3 separate regions of the Homo sapiens genome follow, and all the other regions are linked to region 2. The links come from fine-mapping of genetic effects on gene expression. A gene starts in region 2. Each other region holds a variant in brackets. All regions are shown on one strand. Distances are between the middles of the regions.

Region 1 (5,000 bases), 68 kb before region 2:
AACTTAAGAATTGCTGTTGCCAGATGTTAAATTAATATTCCAAAGATTTAAAATAAATCAAGTTTGCTAGTATTTCCTTATTCATAAAAATTAATAAAGGAAGCAGTGAATTCACAGAAACACATCAACATTAAATTCTACATTGAAAATACCAGAAATGTTTCTCCATGAGAAACTTAACTACTCCCTTGCAGCAATAATTTTAAGAATTCTAATGTTAGATGTTGCTATACCTTAATTTTATCAGCGAAAACATCATGCAGTATACTGAAATATTTTGCATTTGATACTTGTGGTAATAACAAAATCGGATCAATGAATGTATGGAATTTTATGGATTTCAAAGTATGCTATGAAATAAATCCAGTGCCTAAAACGCAAAGCCCCTCATAAAAACAACGATACAAAATACATTAAACTGATTATAATTTATTCATCATACCTTTCTTAATATACCTTAAAAATTTCCAAAAGAAAAATAGTTAAACCATATAAACATAGTTATGTGATCAACAGCAACAAAAATAAAAACAGCTAGGAAATAAAGAGCATAATAATACAATAAAATACCAGAGACTAAAATGAAATGTGGTGACTAGTAAGAAAATTATATCATAACAGTAAGTGGAAAGATAGAAGGTAATATATTCATAGTAATATATTAGTATCACAAAAGTGTATGTTTATTGATAAAGATAGGTCATAAAGTCATGTAAATAGTTGAAAATGGCCTTTTTTTGGTTTTGGGAGTTACTCTGTTTTATTTTTAATGTACAGTGAAAACATGTTTTTTTTTAAATGTTTGTTGTCCTCCTGACAATTTTTCACTAAAAAATTGCTTAAGTACAATACCCTACTATCAAGAGACAGTATCATTATAATGGGAATCATGATACTTTCTCTGAAGACTCAAAATATGAAGTCATTTTAATCAGGGACAGTCATCAAATGGGTCAAATGAGCTTCCCATTTTTTTTTCCACCACTGCATTAGCTTCTGTCACCATTTTTCTTGAACTCTTTCATATCCTTCTGTTGGACATTCATTTATAAATAAATATCTCATTTTAAAACAAGTACCAGATATAAGAAATGAGAGCAGCTGTTAAAAGCTTAGAAGAAAATCTACTTCCAGCTGTACACAGCCATCTGGCCTGCCTCTCTTGGGAATACAGATCCAGACAAGATGACTATTACCAGTGTAAATGAGTATAGCAGGTACTCTATTGTAGTAATACATTATATCATAAAATTATCTTGCACTGCTTTAGAAGTCATTGTGTGTAACTCTTCACTATTAATGGCCACATATTATGTGTCACAGCTGAAAAAAACTTTTACTAACAGAATGTGGCAAAACAAAACCGTAACTATACTCATAAATTGTAAAATTGAGTTAATTTTTTCAGTGACTTTATTCTTGATTCACACAAATCAGTCACTAAAATATGTAACGCTTACATCGTCAAAACAAAGAAAAATTCAATAGAATCCAACAGAAAATCAGCCAAGAGCAAAGTTTTAAATGTACTTTAAAAAATTTCCAACGCTTGTTTTTCATCAACTTAAACAGTGTTTAATTCTACCAAGTTTCTTCCAAATGGCAAGAGCAAGTCAAGTTTTTTGGGAGTAGAATCAAAGATTTCTTTTGGTTATTTTGTACAAAGGTATATGTATTAGTCAGTTTTTGCACTGCTATAAAGAAATATCCAAGACTGGGTAATTTATAAAGGAAAGAGGTTTAATTGACTGACAGTTACGCATGGCTGGAGAGCCTCAGGAAACTTACAATCATGGTGGAAGGGGAAGCTGGCACATCTTACATGGTGGCAGGCAAGAGAAGTGAAGTGAAAGCAAAGGAAAAACTGCCACTTTTAAAACCATCGGATCTCACGAGACTCACGCACTATCACAAGAACAACATGGGGGAAACCACCCCCATAATCCAATCACCTCCCATCAGGTTCCTCCCGTGACACATGGGAATTACAAATGAAGATGAGATTTGGATGGGGACACAGAGCCAAACCATATCAATATACAAAGGTAAAAATCTCCGAAGAAACTTCTTACATCACACTTCATGTGGAAGACTGAGTAATATTAGAGATAAGATTCTAGGCTCACCCCTAGCCCTAGGATGTCCCTACTATTGTTCAATTTATCCCTATAAGACAAACAACTATTTTATA[T/C]TGGAATTTATTGTTTACAAAAAGCACCAATATAAAGTAACAAAGCAAGCAAAAAAAAACTAAGGAATTCAGTACACATTAAACACTCATGGAAAAGAGAGGAACCTCTTGAGGATAAAATATAACCAAGAACTCAATCAAAATAAGGAACTCAGGAAAAGAGAAGCTATGGATAAAATTCAGCCAAGAGGTGAATCAAAATCAAGAACTCAGGAAATAAGCTATGGTAAAAGCCAAATGTGAATATAGTGCTAATTAAATGCAAATACATTTAAATGTAAAACCAAGAATAAACTACTCTGGCATTTATTGTTATAGACATTCTCACCATTCTGGTTTGCTAAGGAAACCCCAAACTGCACTTGCTGTATCACTGCATGCTTATCAAAAATATTCCAGTTCAGGTAAATTATATGGGCATTCAAGATATGACACTTCATTACGTTCCATAACTAGACAAAGTAATTTATCAAATATTTGCTGACAGGGAAGAGAATTAGGGAGGAAATGTAAAAGTACAAAATTTCTACATTTTTAATAGCATATAGTCAATCAATACAGATTTAACTGAAACACAGTGCTGCTTAAAACAATAGTTCATGTTATGCATATTGAAGGAAGGACACTTTTCTCCAGCTTACTCTAAAATGCATTTAAAAAGACAGAATGATTGCTGATACATAAGATGGAGTTGCGATAAAGCAAGCACAGTCAATTGTTAATTGTGGAATCTAGGTAGTCGATATCTGGGTATTCAGTGTAAATTCTCTCAGCTTACCTTTATGTTTTAGAAGTTCATAATGAAATGTTAGAGGAGAAGTAAATTTTACTTAATGACAATTGTTTGTAGGTGGTGACATGTTTCAATAAAATTTTTTCTCATCTTTATTTCTATTTTGCTTTGTTACACTAAATTATTTTACAAATGTATGTAAACTATACACACACTTTACAAATGTATTATAACTGTAGTTTGTAAAGGAGTTGACTGTTTTGAGCCACTTAAAAGTTTCTATCACTAAATTATAAATTCTTGAGAGCCTAGAACTGTCTCTACCATCACTGTATGCCCAGTGACCAGGCCGGTGCCTGCCTCATTAAATAAATATTTGTGTAACTAATTAAGTAATGAAAAAAATGTACTGAAAATACAGAAATAGAATTAACACAGCTCTTTTCTGGTCCACACGTTTCCTTGGTTCAGACGCTCTCCCCCAACCATTTGTGGCAGGAGAAATGCCCTTTTTAAAACATTTGGGATTATGATCAGAGAGAACAGCACAGGGTAAAAGCTTACTACTGAAACTTGCGGGTAGTCTGTACATAAGATACCATCCATGTTGAATGCTAATATTAACTGGATTAAAATATTATAAAACATTGTACTTTGTTTTATAAGTATATATATACACATATACACATACACACACACACACACACAATGTTTTATTAAAAATACCACTGGAAAACGTAAGTTAAAACTGTACCAAGGGATACAATATGGCTATGCATTGGTAACATCTTTCAAGAAGTCACATTTATAATACATACGAAGCTTTAAATGTGTGTTTCCTTTAGTTCATCAATGCCATTTCTAGGAATTTATCCTAAAGAAATAATCAGACAAAGTACACACGTAAATATAAAAGGATATTCACTGAAGCACTGTTCATAATTCCAAGTATTTGGATATAATATTTATGCCTACAGAGAGGAATCTGATTACATCATAACATGGTATGAAACAAGACAGTATTATAGTTATTTAACAAGATGAAACAGACTTACCTACAAGAATATCCACAATTTGTGTGTGCCTATTCACTCATTAACTTTTTTACATACATGCTAAATATTTGAAATAATATAGAACAATGGGAAGGTTAGGGGCACCCACACAGTCAAAAATCACGTGTTAAGTGTTCACTCCCCAAAAATTGACTACTAAAAGCTTACTGCTGACCAGAAGCCTTACCAATAACATAGTCAATTAACACAGATTTTGTACATGTATTATATGCAATATTCTTACAATAAAGTGAGCTAAAGAAAATGTTATTTAGAAATCATAGGACAAAATACATTTATAGTACTGTATTGTATTTACTCATACTATAAGTTTCTGTCACCTGTTTACAAGATGAATCATCTGTTTAAAATGGGAGCAACCACAGGTACAGATCTCAATCTATGGTATCTATCAAGCAACTCAACTTTTTCTTGTAATGTCATGGCTTGTCTGCTTCTTGGGAGCACCTCCAGCATCCCTAGTGGCATTTTGTTTGCGTCCCATGGTGTTATTCAAGGTTTACACTATTACATTAAACAGAATGAAAAATACAGGAGAACCTCGGGTGATCACTGTTTACTGCAATATGCAACTCACTGGAGAGATGAAGGGCTCACATGGAGATGATCAGTGTCATAAGGCATTTTAAGTGGCTACTGCAACACTTAAGCTCACCCTAATAGCAACGGAATGCAGCTACGAAGTTATGACAGTAGCCTATAACGTACTACAGTTAATTTTATGCAGTTGTGATTTAATATGGCAACCTTATGTTTGTTTACATTTCCCTCAACTGCAAGTGGTGTCATGTGTGATTTGTAACTGTGTGTCTAAGTTTTAACAAGTTTTGACCTTTTTATAATAGATTTGTGTATATCTTATGGTACTAAACGATGAAAATAGACTAGTATGTATATACATTTTATGCCCTCTTGACAGACTTTTTTCTCCATTTTTTTTGGTATTTGTAAGGCAATGCAGTCCATCTTAGAATGCTTTCAAATTGTCACATATCTTAAA
Region 2 (5,000 bases):
AACCAATGTAGACCTTACATGTATTGATCAATGTATTATGTCTCTCTAAAATGTATAAAAGCCAGCTGTACCCTGACCACCTTGGGCACCTGCCATCAGGACCTCCAGAGGCTGTGTCACCAGTGCATCCTTAACACTGGCAAAAAAAAAAAAATTGATTAAGGTCAGTCTTAAAATACTTTGGGGTTCACACCCTTCAAATGAAAATTGGCGTGGTCCTAGGGATCGTCCTAGGAGATAAAACATCACAATTTCCATGGAGTTCTTCATCATCTTTTATTGCCCTTTGCTTTGGTAATCCACAAAAAAAACTGTCTACTTTTTCTTCACTCTTCTACCTTTCTCGTGAACTCCTAAATCTAAAACTCTTGGAATATGGTATACAAATACCAAGTGCTAAAAAAAATCATTAATTTATATTTGTAAATACAATTTCAGTTTAACAGTGGTTCTCTAAATCCCTTAGCAGAACTTCACCAATAATTTCATATGACCTACTTTCATGTTAAAATTTAAAAGCTGAAGAGAGGTACATTAGTTAAAATTGAACACACAATATTTGTTTCAGACTAAGAATAAAGAGAAAGGGAAACAATCACTCTGCATATGAGGGTATTTTTTCACTGTCTCTACCCAGCTATTAAAATTTTGTTAATATCTTAAACCCAATTCAGATTTTGAGCCCTGTGTAGGTGTACAACTTAACCAGGAAAAACTATCTTCAATTATGTAAGCAGATAACTCTCACCAAAATGGTCCACAATTAGAAACCCTAGTCACATTCCCGAAATAACTATTTTTGCTGAAGCAGCTAGATCAACTATCCATGATGGATAATTAGAACTTACAAACACTCCACCTACTTTAAATACAACCAGTCACTTCAAATCTCAACCTTTTCAAAGTTAATGGTGGATTAAGATTGAAATCAGATTGAATGAACTTCAGAAATAAATCCACATAAAATAAATGGCAGGTTATTTTCACAAGTATACACTGAGTTCAACGTAAAGTAAACATACAGGATAACTTAAAACACACTCTCAATATGTTCTGTTGTACTTGCACAAAATAAAAAATGCAAGCTTATTCTCACAAGTATACACCGAGTTCAACATAAACAAAAATAAACATACAGTGTAACTTAAAACACACTCTGCACAGGTTCTGTTGCTTCTTGAAATGGGTAATGAAGGGAGCAGAGTAAGAAAATAAGGAAAACATATTTCCTGCAGGCTTATAAATACTTCCAAAGGGTATTTTCACATCCAACACACCCCTTTTAGTGGCACCATTGCTCTAAGCTGGGCTTCCAGCTGGGAATAAAGGCGCCCTGGGTCTGAAAGGTGTGAGGTGCTCAGAAGCAGTCAAGAACACGCTTTGCCGTCGTTTTTCAAGTCAGAACCCTGCTAACTCCACGTCCCGGAAACGCCCCAGGGCCTCCCACCCTCGCGGCTCCCGCCCCAGCGCCGGCATCGCCCACGCCGGCGACCAGGCTGCCTAGCAACACGGCAGGGCTGCCTGGCAACGCGGCCCACCCTGGCCCGCCCCCGCCCACAGGGGAAGGCCAAGGGGATCCATTCTACCTCCTTTTTCTTCTGTCCTCCCCCGAGCTGGATGCAGAGCAGCAGCAGCAGGAGAAGGAAGGGAAAGCTCCCGGTGGGCAGGTACCGCAGCCGCCGCCCCGCTTGCCTACGGCGTGAAGGAGCGCCCCGGGCCCCCATCGCGGCAGGGCAGTGTCTCCTCCACGCGCGGTAGCCGTGCGCGCCCAGCTCCTACCGCGCACCACGCCTGCCCGGCCAGCCTCCGGGAGCCCGCTGGCTGGGCCCTCCGGGATGGCAGCGGCTTTGCGAGGGACCCGGGCCGCGGCCGAGGACGCAGAGGAGGAGACTGACAGAGCATCCGGTTCACCGGGAGAAGACCTGGAAAGGCGCGGGATGGGGGCAGGAAGTGGGCGTGGCGAGGGAGCCAGGCTTCGGGGGCGCGGCGTGCGCTCCCGCCCGGAGCTTGCCTTTCCCGGACCAGCGCTGAGGAGAGGAGTGGTCCTTTGGCCCTGGGACCTCAATCTGAGGCCATCCTGCTACTGAACCCAATTACTGGGTAGTCCAGCACTTTACCTGGGGCCTAGCACAGAAAGACCTGAATGCCTTCTTGGATGATGAAGGGGAAGCTTTGGGGAATGACAACCTGGCCCCTGCGGTCCCCAGCAATCTCTATTCCCATTGAGATCATTATTAGGAACACAGCTCTTCTCCTTCAGAGCCCTGGGAAACCATCTAACTCCAGAGTCCCCCGATGCACAGAAGCCGCCCCACAACTTCACAACTGTTCCTTCCAGCCCCACTGGAAGGCCTGAGGCACAACCTAGACTCCACTTCATTCAATGACTCATTCAGCATCCATGGAGTGCATAAGTACAGAGCACCGTACTAGCTACTTTTAATATAAAAACGAATAGACTTACTTCAATTTCTATTCTATGAATATTTTAAGAACCATAGCAGACTGGACATGGTGGCTCATGCCTGTAATCCCAGCACTTTGGGAGGCTGAGGCAGGTGGCTCACCTGAGGTCAGGAGTTCAAGACCAGCCTGCCGTAACATGGGGAAACCCCATTTCTACTAAAAATACAAAAAGTAGCCGGGCATGGTGGAGCGCCTTGCAGTTCCTCTACTTGGGAGGCTGAGGCAGGAGAATGGCATAAACCCGGGAGGCAGAGGTTGCAGTGAGCCGAGATCACTCCACTGCACTCCAGCCTGGGAGACAGAATGAGACTCTGTCTCAAAAAAAAAAAAAAAAAAAAAAAAAGAACCATAGCAGCAGACTGTATGTTGAACGTTTGATATGGGCCTGATCCGTTCTAATGCATCATGGTTTTTATTACTCTAGTATCTAGAGATTTCTTCACTTGTGCCATGAACACCTTTGGTAATGTGATAAAACCTGTAGACGCCTTCTTAAAATAGCACATATTTCTAAACGCATGAAATTAAATACATAGTATTAGCCAGGCACGGTGGCTCACACCTGTAAACCCAATGCTTTGGGAGACCTATGCAGGAGGCTTGTGTCCAAGAGTTGGAGAGCAGCCTGGGCAAGATAGTGAGACCTTGTCTTTACGAAAAAAAAAAAAATTAACAGCTGGGTATGGTGGGGAGTACTTGTAGTCCTAGCTATTCCAAGACTGAGGCTGGAAGGATCACTAGAGCCCAGGAGTTTGAGGTTACAGTGAGTTCCGATCATGCTACAGCACTCCAGCCTGGGAGACAGAGCAAAACCCTGTCTCCAAAAATATATACAGAATATAAAAATATTATATATATAATACTTAAGGAATATATACGTATAATTGTTCAAGATATCTGCAACAACTTACTGAGTATGAAAATAATTTCTGTAGGAAACAAAGTTGTAGGTACTGATAATACTACTGTGGTTTGTTGCCTGCCTTTATAATTCAAAGAAACGAAACTGTTGTGAGGTTAATAGACATAAAGTTACGATTTTTTCAATACAAAGTTCACAGATGCTGAAATTTCATGGACTCCAGATTAAGAACGCTTGCTCCACAACAACCCTATCAACTAGGTTCCACTGTTAACGATTTTCAGATAAAGAAATTAAGGCCCAGAAAAAATTTGAACATTGACAGTCTGGCTCTACAGTCATGCTTATGCTACGATGCCTTTGTTAAAGGAGTTTACAAATATATATCACTTTTCTGTATCGCAAGCTTTTGATTTCCCACTATTATGTGAACATTTTGCCTGAATTATCACTCCTGTTAAAAACTTTAGACAAAATAAACTTTACACCTTATTTCAGCAAACAACAATTCATAAATCTGCAGCACTCTGAACCAGAAGTGTTCAGAAAGCTCAGCTCCAGTGGCCTGAGAGCAAGCTTCAATAGACTAAACATAAAAACAAAGTAAGGAAATTACCTAATTGGCTACAGCTACGTTTGCCTTATTTGGTCATGGTGTAATAAGGCATTTACCTATATGGCTGTGGTCTGATGGGAGGTCCCTAGTTGTATAACCAGTCATCCTGTTGGCTGTTTGTGATTGCCTGCGGCTGGTGGGTTTTAATAAGTCAGTTACAAGAACTGTTTCCAAGATAAGCTCCTATGTGCGTACATAAGAGCTCCACTTACACAACCACCCCAGGCTAATTGCCTCTTGCGTATTTTTGCTTTAACACTCCTAAACAATGGCTCCTGGCTGTTTCCTTGAGACATAAAAATAGCCTCAACTTTTGTCTGTTTGGAGACAAGTAAATTTATTATCTTTATCAGTAAAATATTGACATCTAGATATACTCAACATAATCACAACTCATCATCTTTCCCTTTCTCTCCCCAACTTGTGGTAATTTCTTTATTGTAAGCAATGGTACTTCAATCCTTCTAATTACCAATTTTCAGAGCCTCAAAGCTGTCTTCCATTTTCCCATCCTCCCCAAACATGCTGCCTTTATATTCAGTTTCCAAGTTACGCTCCCTCCACAGGGTCCTAGGGATTTGTTTTCTGTCTCCCATTTTGTAACTCTAGCATTCATTAGAAACACATGAGATGTCATTATCAGTTGACCCTCCTTCCCTGACTTAGGTTGATGACAAGAGTCAAACTCTGTAAAATGTTTGAAGAGATTTATTCTGAGCCAAATATGAGTGACCTTGGCCAGTGACACAGCCTCAGGAGGTCCTGAGAACATGTGCCCGAGGTGGTCGGGGTGCAGCTTGGTTTTATATATTTTAGAGAGGCATGAGACATCAATCAAATACATTTAAGAAATGCATTGGTTTCGTTCAGAAAGGCAGGACGACTTAAAGTGGGGTGGAGGGGAGCTTCCAGGCTATGGATAAAATTAAACATTTTCTGACTGACGATTGGTGGAGTTTATCTGAAAACCTGGGATCAGTGGAAAGGAATGTTTAGGTTAAGGTAAAGGATTATGGAGACCAAGTTTTATTGTGCAGAGCAATCTCTCAGACAGAC
Region 3 (5,000 bases), 170 kb before region 2:
AAGCTGCACATTTATGATTTGTGCATTTTTATGCCTATATATGTTTCTGTAGAAATTTCACTCAAATAACCTGGGAATCTTGCTACAAAGGTGCATTTCTAGGTCCCATTTTCTGCAATCTGCATTTTAATAAGTAGCCTGGGGGTTTGCTCAGCCAACCTCTGGAACATAACTGGAAAAATGACAGTGGAGAGGTAAACAAGTGTTTCCTTTTTCATGTCAGCTATGTTTTCCTGCCATAGGAATTTGTGGCCCATTCAATGAATCTGCTTATTTTAAACTGCAGATTGATTACTCACTGTAGAATGAAGGCCCTTGTTCGGTCAGAACTCATTTCCACTCTCACTCTTTATTTCATCTAGGCTTAAATAGCACGAGGCCCTATACTAGAAGACACAAAAATGAGGAAACAATCATTTCTGACTTTAAGAAATTTAAGTTTACATTCCAGTTTAAATAACTATATATTATCTAAACTACAAACCAAGCAAAAAATTAGGTAGCATAAGTGGTAGCAAATAAAGCATTATTAAATTAAGAGGAAGGGTGGAGAAACAGACAAAGTTTCTTGGGAGAGATCATCATAGGATGATTCTAGCCTCCAGACAAAACCTAAAGTAACATTTCAGCAAATAGAAGAAAAAGGAGGTAGGACTCCGAAAAGGGCAGGGAGGGGAGCGCACTAAGGTAAAAAACAGTATAGACTGTAGATAAGTCCACCAGGAGGGAAGAGGCTGTCACTACATTTGGAGGGATCCTGGAATAGGGGAGAAATAATGAATTTTGTTAAGTATAAGGAAGTCACAGAAGACTTTTGAATAGAAAGGAAATGTGACTGTAGGTCAATTTAGGAAGCTGAATTTGAGTGCCATAATGTAATGGACTGCAACAAGGAAAAGATGTAGGTGAGCCAGTATGCTATATTAAAGTGATGAGGAATCTGGACTACGCAGTTAGACAGGTCTAGTTGCAGTGGAACCCTATTTAAATCAAGCTACTTAACCTCTCTAAGCCATACTTTCCTTACCTAATTGGGAGATAATAGTGGCAATTTCATATAAGGATACTATAAGGACTAAAGGAGATAACACATACAGCTCCTAACACATTAAAGGTAATTTATCATCATCATCATCATCCTCCTCCTCATCATCCACATTTTCACATCATTCAAGCTTTCCCCGTGCTCTTAGATATGGAGTATATAAATGGCTCAATGGGAGCTTCATCTGGAGCTAAATTCTGGCTGGGAATAATGAGTAAGTCAGAGGAGCAAAAATGAAGAAGGCATAAAATACATATAAGAATATGGATTAACTAGAGCTAGTTCAATCAGCCAAAGGAGAACGAGGAAATACGTGTAGTCAAAATATACAAAATCTAATTTCTCTAACAGGACTTATCTCATACTTGGATTGGGGTAAAAGCTTTCAGATTGGCATTCCTCCAATCTTTTTTATTTTCTAAAAAATAACAGAACTACATATTACTGTTGAGCTAATATTACTAACATAAAAACTTTTTTCCAACAGTAACTAATTATTTGTGCAGTGAATACAAATTTACCTACCTGATCTTCCAAGACAGATTATGTTGGATGCAGTATACCTTCCCAAACATAATATAATCTAACATTTGGCTATCCTCTCTCTTCTAGTCAGGCTATCTTTCCTGTACAAAAACACCATTTTTATATCTGCCTTCCAAGCTTAATGATCAACTATTAGTTGGAGTTCTATCTTCTTTTGAACCAATTCAAATATAATTTATCAAATCTAAATTAAGTACTACTTTGTCAATTTAGATCAAAAGTTGTTAATTTACTTTACATAAGACTCAGGAAACCCTTTTTATGGCACCTAACTCCACACAGATCTTTTCCTAATCTGAAATTCTGATGTATTTATCAGTCAGAATCATCAAGTTTACACACGGATTTGGACTGTTTTCTGTTTCACTTTTATCAGTATCATGACTCCACGTATCTTGTAAAGATCTTGAAATAGAAGCCATGATTATAATCTCCAAAGTATCTAGACTAATGCTAGACAGAAAGCATTATTAAATAAACGTTGATTGACTGTTTAACCCAATTCTCTGTTTAAAAACTGAATGTTTTATCTTTCTTCTCCACCAAAATTCTTAGTTATGGCATATGTTATCAACTTGCCTCCCAAAGCATTCTCAAAATCATTTCAACCCTCTCTATACACTGCTCACTGAACCACAGATGAAGTTTAATAATCATCACTTTTAAATCACTACCACACTTTCATTTAGGAAGCCATTATATGTTACTTCTGTCTTCAGACTAGTCTTTTAAGTCTTTCAGTTTTGTGTGTCACTTTTCTAAAATACAAATCTGCTCATGCACCTCAAAGGTTTACAGGCTTCTGGTACCCAAATGCCTACAGCAGAGTCTAAACATCTTCCTGTGACACACAAGGTTTTTCCTAATCTATTCCCAATCAACTTTCTCAGTATTCCTCCACACTCCATTTATTCCATTTCCTCTACATTTATTATCCTGAATCTACCAATAACTTTACATACCTCTAGGCCTTTGGGTATTTTCTTTACTTTCTTATGCTACTCTGCCCAGTGTAGTGAGGTTGAATGATGTCCTCCTCCAAAAATTAACTTGGACTGTGACCTTATTTGGAAACAGATTTAATTAGTTCAGGATTTAGGAGGGCCCAAAATCCAATGAGAGTATCTTTATAACTTTATAAGAGACAGAAAAGGATACAAAGAGAAGCACAGAAGAAGGGGATGTGAAGATGGAGGCAAAGACTGGAGTGGGGCATCTATTAAT[A/T]CAAGCCAAGGAACGCTAGCAATTGCCAGCAACTACTAGAACCTAAGAAAGAGGCATGGGATGGTTCTTTCCTTAGAACCTCCAAAAAAACCAACCCCGCTAATCTTTTGATTTTGTACTTCAGCCTCCTGAACTGTGAGAGAACAAATTTGTGTTGTTTTAAAGTTACCCGGTTTGTGGCATTTTGTTGTGACAGCCCTAGAAAATTCACACACCCAGGGATGCACATGTCAAATTCCCACTTCAATGTAAACATCTGAGCTTTTCCATTTCCCATTCCACATCTCCTATAGAGTCATCTAGGCAATAAGCTGCTGTTCCATCTTTGCTCTCGCAGAAATATATTCAACATTATATTTGATTGTTACCAAGCTGCATGGCTGTTGTCTACTTACATATCATTTCCCCTACAGGCCTGGGAAAACATCAAGAGAGAAAAATGACTTGTGCTTTGATTTCTGGTATTTAGTGGTGGTGTTTGCCACAATATATGATCAAAAATGTCTTGCTAAAACATAAAAAATATAGGTTTAAAAAACATAGGGCACAAAACTTAGACATTCTTCTCTTGTATTCAATCACTGAAAAGACAGACTATATGATGTGACTCTTATTACAATGCTTATTGCAGAAGTTCAGGACAGGAAACAAAAGTCCAACATAACCACATTTCAGATTTCTTAAATGTAAATTTTAAAGCTTACTGAGAATAGCTTGGCATAAGCATTTTTAGCTGTATATGCATTTACATTACCAGTTCAATTACTTTATGTAGGCATTATGAAAGTGACTAACTCTCAAATATACCATCTGATATAAAATTAGGTTAGTTTCACAGACTTTTAGTAAACTACTAACCCATGGTGATAAAGCTTTGAGACATAGTAACTCAAAAAAAGCAGTCAGGTAAAAACATGGAGTCCAAAACCCATAAAGTATACTTTTATAGCAACAAATGATGACTTATAATATGATTCAATGATCAAAAGTAGCATTTTCCTAATTATCAGTTTTTTATGTTGCTCTGGGTGGCTGAATGAACTTCTTGCGCCCTACAACTTAACTTCCCAAATTTAAAAGGACAAAATAGTAAAAGAATAAAGTTGATAGCTGAAATACATGCTTCTCTACAAGTACTTTATTAAAGTGTCATTGTACAATGGAAGAGTGCTTAGAAAATGCTCGTGATCATATTTGCACAATCAAGAGTTCAATGCAGTTTGTTTCACCCATACAGAAGGCGTAATTATTTTATTTTCAAGTTATGAAATATTTATTCGTATATTAACATCTTGTATTAAAATCCACATTTCAGTATGAGCTACACGAAATTGATAATACTGTTATCTTTTCTCTACTCCTGCAAATAGAATTTCAGAGTGGAAGCTTCTTCTATTAACACTTCAAACCCTTTTTAAGTATTCATATTATGACTCTGACATCTGTCTGAATGATAATAGCAAAGTCATGTGAAAAGTTTGAAGGGTTCTTTCTTAATTGGCTTACTTAAAACCAATATTTTAACATGGAATTGGATGTTCTTGTTAGATTATGAGAAATCTTTCTTTCATTTCCTGAGGAAAGCACTGCAAAATAGAATGCTGCTCTTGAAAAGATAACACTTTCTTTTCCTTTGCTTCCTTAATTGACTTATTGACAACATAAATACAAAGAATTAACACTATTAGACTCTCAAATGAAAATAAACAGCAAACACATAAATATATACCAAAATATACCATATATATGCAATAATAGTAATTTATTATTTACTGAAAATTTAGGGAAACAGTATGCAATATTATAATACATCAGAAGTACTGAGACAATAGGAGTTAACACCCCTGTCTCTAGATTACAATCTGGTTTAATTAGGTACAAAGGGTAACTGTTTTTGTCAGACTCACAGCTAAAATTTGAGAGATCCAACCATGTATAATATGAGTATCTTTAAAGAGTACTTAACTGGAATCTAAAATCCAAACTTCTAAAATGTAAGAAAACAAGTATGTAAAATGGATGCCTCTGTTACGTCACAGCACAGAGATTCAAGGTACACTAGCAGGAAAGGCGGCACAGTTTTATCTGATAATATGTAAGTTGTAAAGCATGAAGGAGGGGATGAGAACCAAAAGAGAAGCTATTTCTGTAATACCTACAAACTCTGACAGACTGAAGATGACCC

Which allele goes with the higher level. Alleles are on the strand shown, and positions count from the first base shown. SD is a standard deviation of normalised expression in the study named.
For the expression in esophagus muscle of the gene that starts at base 1,892 in region 2, allele C in region 1 goes with a lower level than allele T (small effect, 0.33 SD a copy in GTEx).
For the expression in cerebral cortex of the gene that starts at base 1,892 in region 2, T is the low allele of the variant in region 3 and A is the other (small effect, 0.17 SD a copy in GTEx).

The links. PIP is the estimated chance that this variant, and not a neighbour inherited with it, causes the effect.
Region 1: its variant is the best candidate, but not a certain one, in a credible set for the expression of TUSC3 in esophagus muscle (GTEx, PIP 0.59).
Region 3: its variant is the best candidate, but not a certain one, in a credible set for the expression of TUSC3 in cerebral cortex (GTEx, PIP 0.52).

Annotation. Positions count from the first base shown.
Region 1 is chr8:15,605,550-15,610,549 of GRCh38, reverse strand. All of the region lies in intron 1 of TUSC3 (tumor suppressor candidate 3), which reads right to left. Among named protein-coding and RNA genes, the nearest start is that of TUSC3, 68 kb to the right of the region's middle. The variant T/C (reference allele first, on the strand shown) is at 2,192.
Region 2 is chr8:15,537,155-15,542,154 of GRCh38, reverse strand. It overlaps TUSC3 (tumor suppressor candidate 3), which reads right to left and starts at 1,892. Exons shown (of 11, transcript NM_006765.4): 1 at 1,587-1,892. The coding sequence starts at 1,724.
Region 3 is chr8:15,705,764-15,710,763 of GRCh38, reverse strand. All of the region lies in intron 6 of TUSC3 (tumor suppressor candidate 3), which reads right to left. Among named protein-coding and RNA genes, the nearest start is that of TUSC3, 170 kb to the right of the region's middle. The variant A/T (reference allele first, on the strand shown) is at 2,816.